Regions from separate parts of the Homo sapiens genome. Here region 2 is linked to region 1. Evidence: fine-mapped QTL for protein levels in blood plasma. A gene starts in region 1. The other region holds a variant in brackets. All regions are shown on one strand. Distances are from middle to middle. Region 1 holds the start of GOLGA3 (golgin A3). Region 2 overlaps GOLGA3 (golgin A3).

What was found. A credible set is the group of variants that fine-mapping cannot tell apart. PIP is the chance, under the fine-mapping model, that this variant and not a neighbour inherited with it causes the effect. Protein levels are from antibody-based Olink assays in UK Biobank. Linkage for the fine-mapping came from a reference panel and not from the study's own genotypes, which makes the PIPs less certain.
Region 2: its variant is the best candidate, but not a certain one, in a credible set for the plasma level of the GOLGA3 protein (UK Biobank, PIP 0.69). The variant lies in the coding sequence of GOLGA3. If it changes the protein, the assay may bind it differently, which can mimic a change of level.

What each region holds. Positions count from the first base shown.
Region 1 is chr12:132,823,584-132,832,553 of GRCh38, reverse strand. It overlaps GOLGA3 (golgin A3), which reads left to right and starts at 3,685. Exons shown (of 24, transcript NM_001389683.1): 1 at 3,685-3,751. It overlaps CHFR (checkpoint with forkhead and ring finger domains), which reads left to right. Exons shown (of 18, transcript NM_001161346.2): 18 at 1-198. It also overlaps the pseudogene RPS11P5. RefSeq lists silencers at 3,168-3,377, 3,748-3,807, 4,308-4,407 and an enhancer at 3,458-3,597.
Region 2 is chr12:132,811,551-132,820,520 of GRCh38, reverse strand. It overlaps GOLGA3 (golgin A3), which reads left to right. Exons shown (of 24, transcript NM_001389683.1): 3 at 3,709-3,981; 4 at 7,102-7,214. Among named protein-coding and RNA genes, the nearest start is that of GOLGA3, 13 kb to the left of the region's middle. RefSeq lists an enhancer at 8-57. The variant G/A (reference allele first, on the strand shown) is at 3,784.

The sequences.
Region 1 (8,970 bases):
ACAATGTATAATGATCAACTCCCAGTAACTGGGGTATCCATCACCTCAAGCCTGTATCATTTCTTTGTTAGGAACATTCCAGTTCCACTCTTTTTGTTATTTAAAAATATACAATACATTATTATTAACTATATTCACCCTCCTGTGCTATGGAATACTAGATCTTATGCTAATTAAATGTTTTCCCTATTTCTCCCATTGGCTACACCTTAGGATAGTGCAATATGAAAATCAGGAAACTGAGCTTGGTGGAGTGTTTTCTTCATTCTGTCATTTTATCACATGAGGACATTCACGTAACCACGGTCACAAAATACAGAACAGTTCCATCACCACAAAAATCTCTCTCCATCTACCCCTTTTTAGTCATCCGAACCCCACCACCACTCTATAATGCTGTCATTTTGTGACATAAGTGGACACATCGTACAGTTCATGCAGTGTAGACCTTCGGAGATGTTTTCCTCCCTGGATGTAATGCCTTGGAGCTTCGTCCAAGTTATTGCACACATCAGTGGTCAGCTCCTTTTTATTGCTGAGTAGTGTCCATGGCATGGGTGGTCCACGGTTTGTTTCACCACGTCAGAGTGGCATGGGTGGTCCATGGTTTGTTTCACCACGTCAGAGTGGCGTGGGTGGTCCACAGTTTGTTTTGCCACGTCAGAGTGGCGTGGGTGGTCCACGGTTTGTTTCACCATGTCAGAGTGGCGTGGGGGGTCCATGGTTTGTTTCACCATGTCAGAGGACATTTTGGTTGTTTCCAGTTTGGGGTCAGTAATGTACAGGCTTTTGTGTAGACATAAGTTTATTTCTCTGAGTTCAATGTCTAGGAATGCAGTTGCTGGGTCATAAAATTGTTTACTTTTTGAAGAAACTGCCCAACTATATTCCAGAGTGGGTGCACTATTGCTGTTCCCATCAGCAATGTATAAGAGATTAGTTACTCCAGAATACATTATTCCCAGCATTTCATATTGCCACTGCTGTATATTATTTCAGCTGTTCTAATAGGTGTATACTAATATCCCAAGGCAGTCTTTTTTTTTTTTTTTTTTTGAGACAGAGTCTGACTGTGTCACCCAGGCTGGAGTGCAATGGTGTGATCCCAGCTCACTGCAGCCTCCACCTCCCAGGTTCAAGCGATTCTCCTGCCTCAGCCTCCCAAGTAGTTGGTATTACAGGTACCTGCCACCATGCCCAGCTAATTTTTGTATTTTTAGTAGAAGCAGGATTTCACCATGTTAGTCAGGCTGGTCTCGAACTCCTGACCTCAGGTGATCCACCTGCTTCGGCCTCTCAAAGTGCTGGAATTACAGGCTTGAGCCACCGCGCCTGACCTCAAGATAGTCTTAATGTGCATTTCTGTAATGGCTAGTGATGCTGAACCTGGTCACAAGCTTATTTGCCACTCATATATCCTTTTAGTGAAATGTGTTTTCATGTTTTTTGCTTGTCTTCTGTTTGTGTGTGTGTATGGTTTTTTTTTTTTTGAGATGGAGTCTCATTTTGTCACCCAGGTTGGAGTGCAGTGACACAATCTCAGCTCACTGCAACCTCCGCCTCCCAGATTCAAGCAATTCTTGTGCCTCAGCCACCCAAATAGCTGGCATTACAGGTGTGCGTCACCACGCCTGGCTAATTTTTGTATTTTTAGTAGAGACAGGGTTTCTCCATGTTGGCCAGGCTGGTCTCAAACTCCTGGCCTCAAGTGATTTGCCCCCTTAGCCTCCCAAAGTGCTGAGATTACAGGCATGAGCCATTGTGCCCAGAATAATTGTATTTTTTTTTACTGTCAAGTTTTGAGAGTTCTTTATATATTCTAGCTACTAGTCCTTCAACAAACGTGGTTTGAAAATATTTTCTCACAGTCTGTAACTCATCTTTTCATCCTCTTAATGTGGTCTTTCTCACAAGGTTGGTTTGTTTGTTTTGAGATGGAGTCTCGCTCTGTCGCCCAGGCTGGAGTGCAGTGGCACGATCTCAGCTCACTGCAACCTCTGCCTCCCAGGTTCAAGTGATCCCCCTGCCTCAGCCTCCCGAGTAGTTGGGACTACAGGCACACACCACCACGCCCAGCTAATTTTTTTGTATTTTTCATAGAGACAGGGTTCACCATGTTGGCCAGGATAGTCTTGATCTCTTGACCTTGTGATCCACCTGCCTCGGCCTCTCAAGGTGCTGGAATTACAGGCGTGAGACACTGTGCCCGGCTTTTTTTTTTTTTTTTGAGACGGAGTCTTGCTCTGTTGCCCAGGCTGGTGGCACGATCTCCGCTCACTGCAACCTCTCCGCCTCCTGGATTCAAGCGATTCTCCTCCAGCCTCCTGAGTAGCTGGGATTACAGGCACATGCCACCATGCCCGGCTAATTATTATATTTTTAGTAGAGATGGGTTTCACCATTTGGCCTGGCTGGTCTCAAACTCCTGACCTCAGGTAATCCGCCCACCTTGGCCTCCCAAAGTGTTGGGATTACAGGCGTGAGCCACCGCATCCGGTGAAAAGTTTCTAATTTTTTCATGAAGTTTACTCTATCAACTTCTTTTGTGAATTGTGTTTTTTTGGTCAGATCTAAGAACTCTTCCCCAAGCTCTAGATGTGAGAAATTCTGTTTTCTTCTAAAAGTTGTATATTTTACGCCTCAGTCTGATCATTTTGTGTTAGAATTTGCATTTGCAGATAACATGATGGCCCATGTAAAAAATACAAGGATTTTACAACAACAACCGCAAAACACCAAATGAACCCTCAAACTAATGAGTTCAGCGAGGTCTCAGGATAAGAAAATCAACATAGAATTCATCACATTTGTGTAGACCAACAGTGAACACGTGGAAAACGTCAAAAACGCAGTGTTACAGTTGTTTGATGTGAAATACTATAAACTTAAAAGGTGCAGAATCTGTATGCTGAAATTACAAAATGCTGGTGGAAGAAATCAAAAGACCGAAATAAATGGAGGGGCCACCAGGGACGCAGATGAAGGACCGAGTCAGCGATGCCCGTGCTCCCCAAACGATCTGCAGCAGTTCCCATCAAAATCCCAGAAAACTTCGTAGACTGAAGCGTATTCCAAAATCCGCAGAGATGAGCGCAACATCACAGAGGACCCCGAGGCGCCCTCCAGGCCATTTCCTTCCTGACAGCTGGAAGAGCGGCCTGGCGGATGAGGGAAGGTGGAAAGCCGTTCCCCAGCGGCCAGCGGCCCGCGCCGTCCAGCTTTGCCCTTTTTAAAGGGGAAGCAAATAGGGTCCAAAGCAGCGTCGCCTTTGATCTGGCACCTGAAGCGCGAAGGGCGCCGGCCGGGTGGAGGTGCGGGGTTGGGGCGGGGACCCGACTAGGGCGGGCGGGGAAGTCACGCCCACACCGAGCTCGGCCGCGCCCATGCCGAGCCCCGGCCACGCCACTTCCGCCGGAAGCTCGGTTCAGCTTCCTGAAAGAGTTGGTCCTGCAGTTCCGGAAGTTGCGTTTCTACTAGGGAAAGGTCCGCAAACTCTTAAGGTCACTTTCTGAAGGCGGCCTCATCACAGTCGGAGGTGAGCTCGATCCGGACCCTGTGGGCAGAGGGTCCCCGGCCCTAGGGTGGCCACTTGAAGAAGAGGAGGACGTTCTCTGTTCCGGAACGAAAGTAGCGCGTGCAGGCTGTTTCCGGGGACCCGAGGCCGATGCACCGCTCGCCCCGCCCCTCTCACGGCCACGTCTCCGCCGGAGCATCCGGGCCGGGCGGCCTCCGGGGCTGCCAGAGCAGCAGGGTGAGGGGCTCGGAGGCCGCGGCGCCTCGGGGCTCGGGCTCCCGCTCCCGCTCCCGCTCCCGCAGTGCATGGGCGGGGGAGGCTCGAGGGGCGGCGGCGGGGCCTGGGCGCGTCCCTGCAGCGTGGCGGGACGGCCCCGTTCCAGTCACCCCCGCCTCGCTGCGGTGGCCTCGGGCCTGGGCGCCCGCCTTCAGCTGCGGCGGAGCTGGCTCTGTAAATGCCGGTGCCCGCGAGCCCTCCTGAATGCTTGTCTGCGCCCGACGAGCGCGGCCTGTCCCGAAGCTGTCCACTGCCACCACTCGGGCAGTGCTTGCTTTAGCCTGGCCCTTTGCAGCTGAAAGGCGTGACATGGTGTCGGGTGGTTCGTGGGAAGTCGGGGTTTCAGGAGTCCGTGTACTTCCTTGTTTGTCTTTGTCGCTGGCCGACTTGTCTTCATTCCAGGTGGCCAGAGCGAGTGGGGCCGGGCGTTGTCACGGGTATGAACCCGACGAATGTCAGTCGTGTGGCGGGTCCTGGGTATTGTGGGTCTGGGTCACTGCCCCCGCGGAGCCCACCTAGGACAGGGACACCCAGGGTCGCCAGCGAGAGGGTACCGGGCGGTGGTTGGGTGGGGTCCGCTACTCTAAGTGGGAGCCTGGGGGGCGGGCGACTTCCGTGCTAAGGCCTCTATGACGAGAAGCAAGCCAGGCAAAATTGTGAGAAAAGCGCGCCTCAGGCAGAAAGTTTGAAGACCCTGAGGGCGGAGGATGTGGCCACAGTGTAATGGCAAAGGGGGAAAGCGATGGCGGTAAGGATGTTGGTGTAGGCAGGTGCTGGATTCTTAAGAGGTTGGAGTTTATTGTCACTGGGCCAGTGTAAGCCATTTACAGATGACTCATGGATTTTTTTTTTTTTTTTAAGAGACTGGGTGTGTTGCTGTATTGCCCAGGCTGGTGTGGAACTCCTGGCCTCAAGCGATCCTCCCACCCCAGCCTCCCAAAGTGCTGGTGTTACAGGTGTGAGCAGCCACACCCGTCGTCGTGGATTATTTTGAACTGTCTTTTAAACGACATCAACATAGCGCTTTATAACCCTTTAATATCTTTTCAGGCAGTATACCTTAAATGGCAAGAAGGAAATAAATCATCTGACATCACTCAGATTGAAGAGGAGCTTTTTTTCCCCCGATTGCCTTAAGAAGTAGCATACTTTCCCAAGTGAGAATGCCTTCAGTTGGCTTTTAGCGATTTTGACAAGCAACAACTAAAGGGAAAATCGTGATAATTACTGTCATTTTATTGAGGACACGGGACAGACTCTGTGCCTTGTTATATTTAATCCTGGCAAAATTTTGCGTTCATTTTCTCATTGTTTTACTGGTGAGGAAACAGGCTAAATGTGATTAAGAAATCTTTAGCCCAGGCTCTCACAGGTAAGTGGTGGAGGGTCGGGAGCTGAGGCCGGAGTCCTGACTTCCAAGCCTGCCCTTCACGTCTCTGCAGTGACATGAGGCTTGCTTGCTTTTGGTTTTCACTTTGTGTATAGATCTGTGTTTACTTTTGGATACTAGTGTGGCCTCCACCAGGTACTCTTTTCCTGAGGAAATCGTGTTTGGTTTTTGGCTGTGCTCTGTTGTTTCTAATACCCGATAGGAACAGGTGAAACGAGGTGGTGTAGATGGAGCCGTGAATGTTTGTATACAGAATTCAGGTGTGGGGGAAGCAGAAAGTCCTGTAGGTGCCTGAGGTGGTGGTTTCTCAGTATGAAGTCCCTTGATGTTACCCAGCTGTGAACCTAGGGTTGTGTGTACCTTTCGCAGTTCTAAGTGACAGCTTTGTCCTGTCTCTTCTCTCTAGAGACGCAGGAGTGCGAGTGATCATAAGTGAGACTGATTAGACTGGCCTCTTTATTTAAAATAGAGCCATGTTTGTAGTACCAGCTTTCTGTGATGCACTGGCAGTTGCTCCTCCTCCTCGCTGCCCGGAGATCGCTTTTTGTCAGTAGTCTGAGGTAATGAGGCCCTGACGACTGAGTCATTCCAAATTTTAACTAAAAATCAAGCAAGACTGGGAATCGACCGAGACTGCCAGCTTATTGCCCTACAGGGAGAAGTATCACTGTCACCAAACTCCAGGCAGTTAGTGAATTCTCTCTCTGGTCCGGCTTCAGGAGGAGCTGCCTGTAAAGAGGGGCCGTCTTTGTGACTTACAGTCACCGTCATGGGGTCTCTGTTCTGGAGAGGTGGGCTGCTTGGACACCAGCAGGGGAATTAAGTGAGCAGAATCTGTGATTGCACTGGACTCAGCTCGGTGCGGTTGGCTGTCACCATGTTGGCGTGCCCTCTCGGTGGAACCTGAGCGTCTTTGGCTGTGTTCCTTCTTGGTCAGTGTAAGGCCCAGGCGTCGTCACTGTGGGCCTCTGCAGCAGTTCTCCTCTGCAGCAGTTCTCCTCTGCATGTTCCACCTGTAATGGCTGAGTCCAGTCCTGCTGGTCATCCCATCCTTCCTTCTGTTCAGGTGGTGGTGCCTGTCTGGGCCGTGGCCGTGATGCTGCTCTTCCAGTTTCTTTTTTTTTTTTTTTTTTGGAGAATGAGAAAATAACTTTATTTCATTGTGGGGAGCGGGCTGATGTCCAGCCTCAGAACTTCTGGAACTGCTTCTTGGTGCTGGCAGCCTTGGTGACCTGGAGCACGTTGAGGTGCACTGTCTTGCTCAGAGGCCGGCAAGGCCGGCACTCGCCCACTGTGACGATGTCACCGATCTGGACGTCCCTGAAGCAGGGGAACAGGTGTACAGACATGTTCTTGTGGTGCTTCTCGAAGTGGTTGTACTTGCGGATGTAGTGCAGGTAGTCTCGGCGGATGACAGTGGTCCTCTGCGTCTTCATCTTGGTCACCACGCCAGAGAGGATCCGCCCTCGAATGGAGACATCACCAGTGAAGGGGCATTTCTTGTCAATGTAGGTGCCCTCAGTAGCCTCTTTGGGTGTCTTGAAGCCCAGACCAATGTTCTTGTAGTACCGCAGGAGCTTCTCCTTGCCAGTTTCTCCCAGCAGGACCCTCTTCTTGTTTTGAAAGATGGTCGGCTGCTTTTGGTAGGCACGCTCAGTCTGAATGTCCGCCATCTTCCCGGCCACTGAAAAAAGGTGCTCTTCCAGTTTCTAACTCCCTGGACTCCCTCATTGGAACTGAAGCTCACAGATGTTTCAGCTGGACTAGTTTAGACTTTGCTGTATTTTAAAAGGCAGTGTTGATGCTCCAGGATTCAAATACTTAATCATTTTGTTTTGGAACCATTAGCTTTGTAGCAGAGGAATGTACTCAGCAGAATCAGCAGAACTGAAGATTTAATTCGGCAAATTAAACCTGTGTTGGCACTTTAGGAGTTGGGAGTGTTCAAGGTGGTGGGAGGCAGACGGGGAATGAGTCTCTGTCTTCAAGGATCTCGCCATGTAATGGGCACACACGCAATGGCAGACATGACGTGCTGTGGTGGAGGCCACGTGAGGTACAGTGATGGCAGAGGGGGTAGACGAGACACTTTACCTGCGGGGCCAGGAGGGTCTGCACGCGCAGGCACACACCGTCGGTTCCTTTACCTGAGGGGCCAGGAGGGTCTGCACGCGTAGGCACACACGGTCGGTTCCATATAATCACCCCACCCCCGCAAGGCAGAAGCAAAGACATCACAAAGCAAAACGCAAGTTTTCTTTTGCTAGGAAATTTTCAAGAGGACCAGATGTACAGGGTACCAGTATTCAGTGGCGCAGTCGAGTCCACATTCCACCGCGTGTAGTCCTCCGTGCCAGTTTGTAATTCATCTGTCAAAGGGGCAAGCCTGTGATAAGCAGCCATCATTTTGCTGATGCTCCTCCCCTTGTTTTGTGGGTGTCTTCTCCATTCCCAGGTGGGCGTGGCCGGCTGACCCCCAGTTCTCTTGGAGTGTGTCTGGGATTGTAGCTGAGGGGCAGGCTTGGTGGAGATCGCAGTGTTTTTCCTGGAAAGTGATTTTCAGAGGGTTCTGTGCTGTGTGTAAGGACAGGTGTGTAGTTCAGATCCCTGCCTAGGCTCTAAGGCCCATTTATCACCCACCCACCCGGAAAATCCAGGGATGAGAGATGTTACTAGATGATCATAGACGCAAACATGAGATTGAGAATTCGTTGCACACAGGATTAGCTTTTGACCAGCCTTGGTAACTTCCTTCACTTCTGTGCTTCAGACATTGCTTTAATCTTTAAATATTTTTATGTGCCAGGCACCCTGAGTCAAGACATCTAGGATCCTTTGTTTACAGTAGTTTCTTGATTAGCTATGCGAGATTTATAGTTACTAATGTTAGGACACATTTCTATTCACAGTGCTTTCTGGTTACAAACCCTTAATGCTAGTTTTACACTAATAGCATACGTAACCTTTTAATATTCTGAACAACACTGTTATGAACTCATAACTGTCTCTGGCCTGTAGGATGCAAGGTGGCAGAGAGGAATGGTGGATTATTATAGTTATGAGCAGATACTCACAGGTCTGCACGCCCTTCAGTGAGTCATTGACTGTGTCAGTGGACTGGGTTACACCCACCACCCATAGGTTTCCTCTTTTACGGGTGACCAGTCTAGATGGCAGGTAGAGTAAAAACCCCTAGAAAGACAGGCACGTCCTGCTGCGGGGTCAGTGACACACATGCTCTCGAGGACCAGCCACGTGGGCTTCTCTTTTTTTTGTTGTTTTTTGTTTTTTGAGATGGAGTTTTGTGCTTGTCTCCCAGGCTGGAGTGCAGTGGCACAATTTTGGCTCACGCAACCTCTGTCTCCCAGGTTCAAGCGATGTTCCTGCCTTAGCCTCCTGAGTAGCTGGGATTACAGGCACGCGCTGCCATGCCTGGCTAATTTTTGTATTTTTAGTAGAGACGAGGTTTCACCTTGTTGGCCAGGCTGGTCTTGAAATTCTGACCTCAAGTGATCCACCCACCTTGACCCCCCAAAGTTATGGGATTACAGGCATGAGCCATCACACGCAGCCCTTTTTTTTTTTTAGACGGAGTTTCCACTCTTGTTGCCCAGGCTGGAGTGCAATGGCGTGGTCTTGGTTCAGTGCAACCTCCGCCTCCCAGGTTCAAGTGATTCTCCTGCCTCAGGCTCCCAAGTAGCTGGGATTACAGGCGCCTGCCACCACGCCTGGCTAGTTTTTTGTATTTTTAGTAGAGATGGGGTTTCACCATGTTGGCCAGGCTGGTCTC
Region 2 (8,970 bases), 12 kb after region 1:
ACATAAGCATCAGGTGAGGCAGATAACAACTTAGAGGCCCAAGATCAAGAGTTCTGAGACCCGCGGCCGTGGAACCTGCTCTTAGATCTGCTGCTCAGGAGCAATGTGCCCTCGAGCAAGACGCTGGGTTAATCTCAGCCTCCGCCCCTTTTTCTATTTTAAACATTTTATTACTGTTTTTAGAGTCAGGGTGTTGCTCCATTGAGCAGGCTGAAGTGCAGTGGTGTAATCATAGCTCACGGCAGCCATGAACTCCTGGGCTTAAGTGATCCTCCTGCCTTGGTCTCTGGGGTAGCGGTGACTATCGATGCGTGTCAGCACGCCTAGCTGATTTTTTTTTTTTTGAGACGGAGTTTTGCTGTTGTTGTCCAGGCTGTAGTGCAATGGTGCGATCTCGGCTCATGGCAACCTCCGCCTCCCGGGTTCAAGCGATCTTCTGCCTCAGCCTCCTGAGTAGCTGGGATTACAGGCATGTGCCACCACGCCCAGCTAATTTTGTATTTTTAGTAGAGATGGAGTTTCCATGTTGATCAGGCTGGTTTTGAACTCCCAATCTCTGGTGATCCCCCCACCTTGGCCTCCCAAAGTGCTGGGATTGCAGGCGTGAGCCACCGCGCCCTGTTGCCTGGCTCATTTTAAAAACTTTTTGTATAAACAGTCTTGCTGTTGCCCGGGCTGGTCTTGAATTCCTGGCCTTGAGTTATCCTTCCACCTCGGCCTCCCAAAGTGCTGGGATTACAGGTGTGAGCCACTGCGCCCGGCCTAACCCAGTAACTTTTATCTGAAATGCAAGGTTCCCCCTCTCCCAGCAGTGGAGCTCACGGGTCCTTTGCATGAAAGGCGTCTCAGTGCGTTGGTCGGGTGCCCGTGGTCTGGCTTCCTGTCTGGCACCCCTGCTTTTATTCTGGTTTTTCTTTCGGGAGGCATGACAGTAAGTATCTGCTGTTAGTTTGAACTCACATTTGCAAGTGAAAGAAACCTTTTCTTTTTTTGAGACGGAGTCTCGCTCTGTTGCCCAGACTGGAGTGCAGTGGCACGACCTCAGCTTACTGCAAGCTCCACTTCGAGGGTTCACGCCATTCTTCTGCCTCAGCCTCCCAAGTAGCTGGGACTATAGGCGCCCGCCACCACGCCCAGCTAAGTCTTTGTATTTTTAGTAGAGACGGGGTTTCGCCGTGTTAGCCAGGATAGTCTCGATCTCCTGACCTCGTGATCCACCTGCCTCAGCTTCCCAAAGTGCTGGGATTACAGGCGTGAGCCACCGCGCCCGGCTAAGAAACTCATTTTTAATTTGCTTGAGCAAAAAGCAAATTTGCTGTCCTGCATGCACGTGGGATCCGAGGAATGCTGACCCCTGTGAGACACGGAGGTGTTGCCGGGCCTCCAGAGCCACCGGAACCAGGACCAGAACCCCCTGAGGACCCTCCCTCCCCCCTCACATGTCTTGGTTCTTTGACTGTGAACTGGCCCACCCACCAGTCAGCAGTTAGGGGGCAGGGAAAAGACTGAAAATCACTTCATTGAAAGAAATCTTTCTTTGTTCCATTTGATGAGGAAATATGTTTTAGTTTGTGTTGTGGGTAATTTGTATATAATCATTTTAGTGGGTGAACTGAGGTAACACGTGGGTATAGAATTGTCACTGGTCCAACCCAGGCCTTTACCCAGCAGGCTGTCATCAAGCAGAAGCGCGGTTCTGGGCTGTCTCTGCTTCACGGGTGGTGTGATGACATCATCCACCTCTTCGCCTTAGGGTCCTCGCCTTGGAGGATAAGCTGAGGCTTTGAAATGACTCCAAAATCAGCCTTTGTAAATGTGAGGCTGTGACTCTGATTAACACTGCTGTTACCAGTGCCTGCTAGAAAGATTGTCAGCTGTGTTTTAAGTGTTTGTGGTTTTCGCTTGTTTTAAACTGGCGACTTTCATAAGATTTCTTATTGGTTTTACTTAAATGGAAAGGAAACATTGGCTGGGTGCGGTGGCTCACGCCTGTAATCCCAGCACTGTGGGAGGCCGAGGCTGGTGAATGGGGAGGAGTTTGAGACCAGACTGGCCAACATGGTGAAACCCCATCTCTACTAAAAAGACCAAAAATTAGCCAGGTGTGGTGGTGGGCACCTGTAATCCCAGCTACTGGGGAGGCTGAAGCAGGAGAATCGCTTGAATCTGGTGAGTGGAGCTTGCAGTGAGCTGAGCTTGTGTGACTGAACTCCAGCCTGGGCAGCAGAATGAGACTCCGTCTCAAAAAAGAGAAGAGGAAATGTTACTGTCGTTACTACATAAATTCTACAGCCAAGAGTGTGGAGGTGTGGAGGGTGAGTTCACCTTATAGTGTAGAGGTGTGGAGGGCGAGTTCACCTTAGAGCATGGAGGAGTGGAGGGTGGGTTCACCTTAGAGCATGGAGGAGTGGAGGGGGGGTTCACCTTAGAGCGTGGAGGTGTGGAGGGCGGGTTCACGTTAGAGCGTACAGGTGTGGAGGGTGGGTTCACCTTAGAGCGTGGAGGAGTGGAGGGTGAGTTCACCTTAGAGTGTGGAGGTGTGGGGGGGGGTTCACCTTAGAGCGTGGAGGAGTGGAGGGTGAGTTCACCTTAGAGTGTGGAGGTGTGGGGGGGGGGTTCACCTTAGAGCGTGGAGGTGTGGAGGGTGAGTTCACCTTAGAGCGTGGAGGAGTGGAGGGCGGGTTCACGTTAGAGTGTGGAGGTGTGGAGTGCGGGTTCACCTTAGAGCGTGGAGGAGTGGAGGGCGGGTTCACCTTAGAGCGTGGAGGTGTGGAGGGTGGGTTCACCTTAGAGCGTGGAGGTGTGGAGGGCGGGTTCACCTTAGAGCGTGGAGGAGTGGAGGGTGAGTTCACCTTAGAGTGTGGAGGTGTGGGGGGGGGGTTCACCTTAGAGCGTGGAGGTGTGGAGGGTGAGTTCACCTTAGAGCGTGGAGGAGTGGAGGGCGGGTTCACGTTAGAGTGTGGAGGTGTGGAGGGTGGGTTCACCTTAGAGCGTGGAGGTGTGGAGTGCGGGTTCACCTTAGAGCGTGGAGGAGTGGAGGGCGGGTTCACCTTAGAGCGTGGAGGTGTGGAGGGCGGGTTCACCTTAGAGCGTGGAGGAGTGGAGGGCGGGTTCACGTTAGAGTGTGGAGGTGTGGAGGGCGGGTTCACCTTAGAGTGTGGAGGTGTGGAGGGCGGGTTCACCTTAGAGCGTGGAGGTGTGGAGGGCGGGTTCACCTTAGAGCGTGGAGGAGTGGAGGGCGGGTTCACGTTAGAGTGTGGAGGTGTGGAGGGGGGGTTCACCTTAGAGCGTGGAGGTGTGGAGGGCGGGTTCACCTTAGAGCGTGGAGGTGTGGAGGGCGGGTTCACCTTAGAGCGTGGAGGAGTGGAGGGCGGGTTCACATTAGAGTGTGGAGGTGTGGAGGGTGAGTTCACGTTAGAGCGTAGAGGTGTGGAGGGCGGGTTCACGTTAGAGTGTGGAGGTGTGGAGGGCAGGTTCACCTTACAGGAAGGACGTGGACACCAGAGGGGCTGTGGGCCTTATCCTGGCCACCCCGCCTGTGGGACGGGGCCCATGGGCTGCTCCTCTCAGAGTGAAGCCTTTGTGGGATGAGAAAGTGCCGTGCTCATGAGTCTGGATCCTCTTCTCTCCTACTCCAGCTGCATGTCTGAAAAGCGACGTCACCTTGTTGTTAAAGCCATGGTGGTCCAGCGTGCTCTGTCTTTCCAGGTGCCGAGGTAAACAGAGCATCCACGGAAGGGGAAAGCCCGGATGGACCTGGCCAGGGAGGCCTCTGTCAGAACG[G/A]GCCAACGCCACCCTTCCCAGACCCTCCGTCGTCTCTCGATCCCACCACAAGCCCAGTGGGCCCTGATGCCTCTCCAGGTGTGGCTGGTTTCCATGACAACCTAAGGAAGTCTCAGGGAACTAGTGCTGAGGGCAGTGTTAGAAAAGAAGCTTTGCAGTCTCTCAGACTCAGTCTTCCTATGCAAGAAACGCAACTGTGTAAGCATCCGTTACCCCGCTTTTCCCACCCTCCACGTCCGCGTCGCTCAGCCCCTTGGGAGCAGGTGCCCTGCGCACTCACTGTCTGAGCTGTTGTGTGCCTGTGCCTGCCGTGTGCCATCTGAGTCCCACGTGGGGCTGTGAGTTTAGCAAGGAGAGCTTCAAGTTAGAGAGTGAAGATGCAGGTGGAGTCAAGGTTCTGCTGTGGTCTGACTGGCAGCAGTGCTGACGCTTTTGCGTTAAAGGCCAGCCTGCATGTCCTGTGTCACCCAGGTGCTTGGTAAGCAGACGGTGGGCATCCAGTCTGTTGTTTTGGTTTTTTTTGGTTTGCTTTTTTTTTCTGAGACAGAGTCTCGCTCTTTCGCCCAGGCCGGACTGCAGTGGCGCTGTCTCGGCTCACTGCAATCTCCGCCTCCTGGGTTCATGCCATTCACCTGCCTCGGCCTCCCGAGTAGCTGGGACTACATGCACCCGCCACCAGGCCCGGCTAATTTTTTGTATTTTTAGCAAAGATGGGGTTTCACCGTGTTAGTCAAGATGGTATTGATCTCCTGACCTCATGGTCTGCCTGCCTTGGCCTCCCAAAGTGTTGGGATTACAGGCGTGAGCCACCAGGCCCAGCCTGTTTTGTTTTTTAATTAGAGTCAGGATCTTGCTCTGTCGCCCAGGCTGGAGGCCAGTGGCAGAGTCAGAGCTCACTGCAGCCTCTGCCTCCCAGGTTCAAGGGATCTTCCTGCCTCTGCTGTCAAGTAGCTTGGACCACAGGTGCGTGTCACCACACCTGGCTAATTTTAATTTTTTGTGTGTGTAGAAACGGGGTCTCACCATGTTTCCCAGGCTGGTCTTGAACTCCTGGGCTCAAGTGATCGTCATACCTTGGCCTCCCAAAATACTGGGATTATAGGCGTGAGCCACTGTACCTGGCCTGCAGTATATTTTTAAAAATTTCTTAAAACTAAATAACAACAACAAAAAACCCTAAATTACTGAAATCAGACTGCATTTCACATGTGTTTATTTGAAACAATTCTGAAAACTCACTGCCAGCATTTAAGTTGAGAAGTAGCATGTAAAAAAGTCTAGATTCCTGATTTTTTTCAACTTAGTTTATTTACTTTGGGGTCCTGAAGTTACAGATGTGTGAGCTCTGGCCCAGGTGTCTGGGGCAGCAGCGCTGGGTCTACGTGCACACCTTTGCGGGATGCCCCTGGTCACCTGTTCCTGCTGGCGCCTGGCCCTGAGCCTATCTCCTGCGTCAGTGTTTGGTTGAAACCCTGCTTATTTTGCCGACTTATATAAATATCTGCCTGGTGGCCATAGGCCTGAATTTGCCACTTACGGTCTAGCCATCTGGACCACTTTGCCATGTGAAAAGGACTAGAGATCTTTTCAGTGATAAAATGTATAAACTAATAATGGTACATTTACAGTGAAATTCTTGGTGACTGCTCAGATGTTAGGGATTATTTAGGACAGTAGCTGCTCATCTCCTCAGCATCTACCTGTAAGGAGGGTGTCATGTGTAAAGCGTTGCTGTGTGATTATGCTTTCCTACTCTGGTCGGCACCCAGGCCGTCGGGCGGTGTCTGCTGATGGCTTAGGAAGGATGAGGCCACACACTCAGTCCTGGGAAGTGGAGCCCTGGGTTTGTAACTATAACACGTTGGCACGTACCATGCAACTCTTTCATCACCTACAATGAAAGGTCTGGGTTTTAGATATTTTAAATTCTGGTTTTGGCTAAAAAGTTGTAAATTTTCCCCTCCTGTCCCGGAGCATGACCTCGGATTGGAGTCTTGTCTGTCTGGAAACTGAGGTAACCCGCCCCCAGCCCTGGAGGGCGGAGCCTGTGCAGCATTTACCCTGCAGTGAGGCCTGGCGCCAGGCTTCAGCCATTTGAGTACCGCCAGAGCCTTATCGTAATGTGACTTGTTACTGCAGGAGCTGAGATGAGCTGTGCGTCAGAGCGGACCCCAAATGTAACTGAGCAAAGAAATGCACTCGGGGTCTCGTGACCCCACGACGGCTGAGCTCCTGTGGCTGGGTACTGCCTGTAACTCCACGGTGCCGGCGTTTCAGGTTCTCCCAGCGGGGTCACGAGAACCTGCTGTGAAGCCAGGGCAAGTTGCAGCGTGGTGAGAGCTGAGCCTGCCTCAGAGTGCTCGGCACGGCTCCAGCTTTGAACCCAGTTCTTTCTGTTGTTAAAAGGCACTTGCTGCCGGGCACGGTGGCTCAGGCCCATAATCTCAGCACTTTGAGAGGCCGAGGTGGGCGGATCACCTCAGGTCGGGAGTTCGAGACCAGCCTGACCAACATGGAGAAACCCTGTCTCTACTAAAAATACCAAAGTCGTCAGGGGTCGTGTTGCATGCCTGTAATCCCACCTACTCAGGAGGCTGTGGCAGGAGAATCGCTTGAACCCAGGAGGCAGAGGTTGTGGTGAGCCGAGATCGCACCATTGCACTCCAGCCTGGGCAACAAGAATGAAACTCCGTCTCAAAAAAAAAAAAAAAAAAGGCCGGGCGCGGTGGCTCACGCCTGTAATCCCAGCACTTTGGGAGGCCGAGGCGGGTGGATCATGAGGTCAGGAGATCGAGACCATCCTGACTAACATGGTGAAACCCCGTCTCTACTAAAAATACAAAAAATTAGCCAGGCGTGGTGGCGGGCGCCTGTATTCCCAGCTACTTGGGAGGCTGAGGCAGGAGAATGGTGTGAACCTGGGAGGCGGAGGTTGCTGTGAGCCGAGATCATGCCACTGCACTCCATTCTGGGCGACAGAGTGAGACTCCATCTCAAAAAAAAAAAAAAAAAAAAAGGCACTTGCTGCCATTTCCTGTTTTACCAGGGGAATGCCCCAGGTGGGGTGTACTCATCATGGGATCACAGACCCAGTGCCTGGCCACTGTGTCTCCTGTGAGGTAGATCCCGCCTGTGGTCCGTGTCCGGGGCTCACAGTTCTCTCTTGATCTAGAAATTGTCCTTCCAAACAAGATGGCTGTGCATTGTTTAGGTGTAAAGTATATGGGTAATTAAGTACAAAATGACCAAGTTCTTGTGCCTGATTGTTCTGCATCCTGGTATTTTATGAGTTTCCAAATTGCCCTTTTCCCACTGCAGGCTCTACAGATTCTCCCCTGCCCCTGGAGAAGGAGGAGCAGGTCCGACTTCAGGCTCGGAAGTGGCTGGAAGAGCAGCTCAAACAGTACAGGGTGAAGCGCCAGCAGGAGAGGGTGAGTCTCCCTCTCCCGAACAAGCTCATGGAAAGCTTCCTGTGCCAGAGACAACTGTTGGTCCCACATAACCCGGGGACCTGCCATTGGCTTCTCTGAGCTGCCATGGGCTCAGGGGCAACAAGCACATTTTATTTCTAAATCTGCCAATTGAAAAGCAAAGAAAGCAAACACGGGTGACCTCAGAGGTACTGTGGGTTCAGTTCTGGACCACCACAAAAATGTAAACATTGCAATAAAGCAAGTCCTACAATGTTTTTGGTTTCCTAGTGCATAAAGAAGTTATGTGTATACGCTACTGTAGTTTACTAAGTGTGCAGTAGCACTGTGTCTAAATAAAACTGATGTACCCACATTAATTTGAAAATGCTTTATTACTAAAAAATGCTAACGATCATCTGAGCCTTCAGCAAGTCGTAATCTCTTTGCTGTTGGAGCATCTTGCCTCAAGTTTGATGGCTGCTGACTCATCAGGGTGGTGGTTGCTGAAGGTTGGGCTGTGGTAATTTCTTAAAACCGCACTAAAGTTTACCATATCTTAGAAAAGATGTCTCTGTAACATGCGGTGCTATTTGATGGCATTTTACCCATTCAGGTTTTATCCTGAGATTGCAGCAATTCAGTCACATCTTCAGGCTCCACTTCTAGTTCTAGTGCCCTTGCTGTTTCCACCACATCTGCAGTCAAGTTCTCCACGGAAGCACTGAATCCCTCAACGCTGTCCGTGAGGGTAGAAATCAGCTTCTTCCACACTCCTGTTAATGTTGATATTTTGACCCCTCCACCCATGAATCATGAATGTTTTTAATGGCATCTAGAATGGTGAATCCTTTCCAGAAGGTTTTCAGTTTACTTTGCCCAGATCCATGAGAGGAATCACTATGACTATGGCAGTTGTACCCTTACAGAAGGTATTTCTTAAGTAATAAGACTTGAAAGTCAAAACTAGTCCTTGATCCATGGGCTGCAGAAGGGATGTTGTGTCTGCAGGCAGGAAAGCGACATTCACCTCCTTGTACATCTCCCATCAGAGCTCTTAGGTGATCTGGCGTATTGTCAATGAGCAGTTAAAAAAAATATATATATATATATATGTGTGTGTGTGTGTGTGTGTATTTTGAGACAGAATCTCGCTTTGTCACCCAAGCAGGTGTGTAGTGGTGCAGTCTTGGCCCACTGCAACCTCCGTCTCCCTAGTTCAAGCAATTCTCCAGCCTCAGCCTCCCGAGTAACTGGGATTAAAAGCACGTGCCACCATGCCCGGCTACTTTTTTTTTTTAATGTTTTTTTTTTTTTTTTTTTTTGAGAGACGGAGTCTCACTCTGTTGCCCAGGCTGGAGCGATCTCGGTTCACTGCAACCTCCACCTCCCAGGTTCCAGTGATTCTCTGCCTCAGCCTCCTGAGTAGCTGGGACTACAGGCACCCACCATCGCGCCCAGCCTATGTCATGTTTCAAAAGGATCTCTTCAGTAGAAGAAGATCAATAAAATGACCAGCGTGTTCTTCTTATACCTTTAAGGTTATGTTTTTAAATACTTTAATCTGGCTGGGTGCAGTGGCTCACACCTATAATCCCAGCACTATGGGAGGGTGGGGCGGGCGGATTGCTTGAGGTCAGGAGTTTGAGACCAGCCTGGCCAACGTGGAGAAACCCCGTCTCTACTAAAAATACAAAAAATTAGCCGGATGTGATGGCACACCCCTGTAATCCTAGCTACTCAGGAGGCTGAGACAGGAGAATCGCTTGAACCCAGG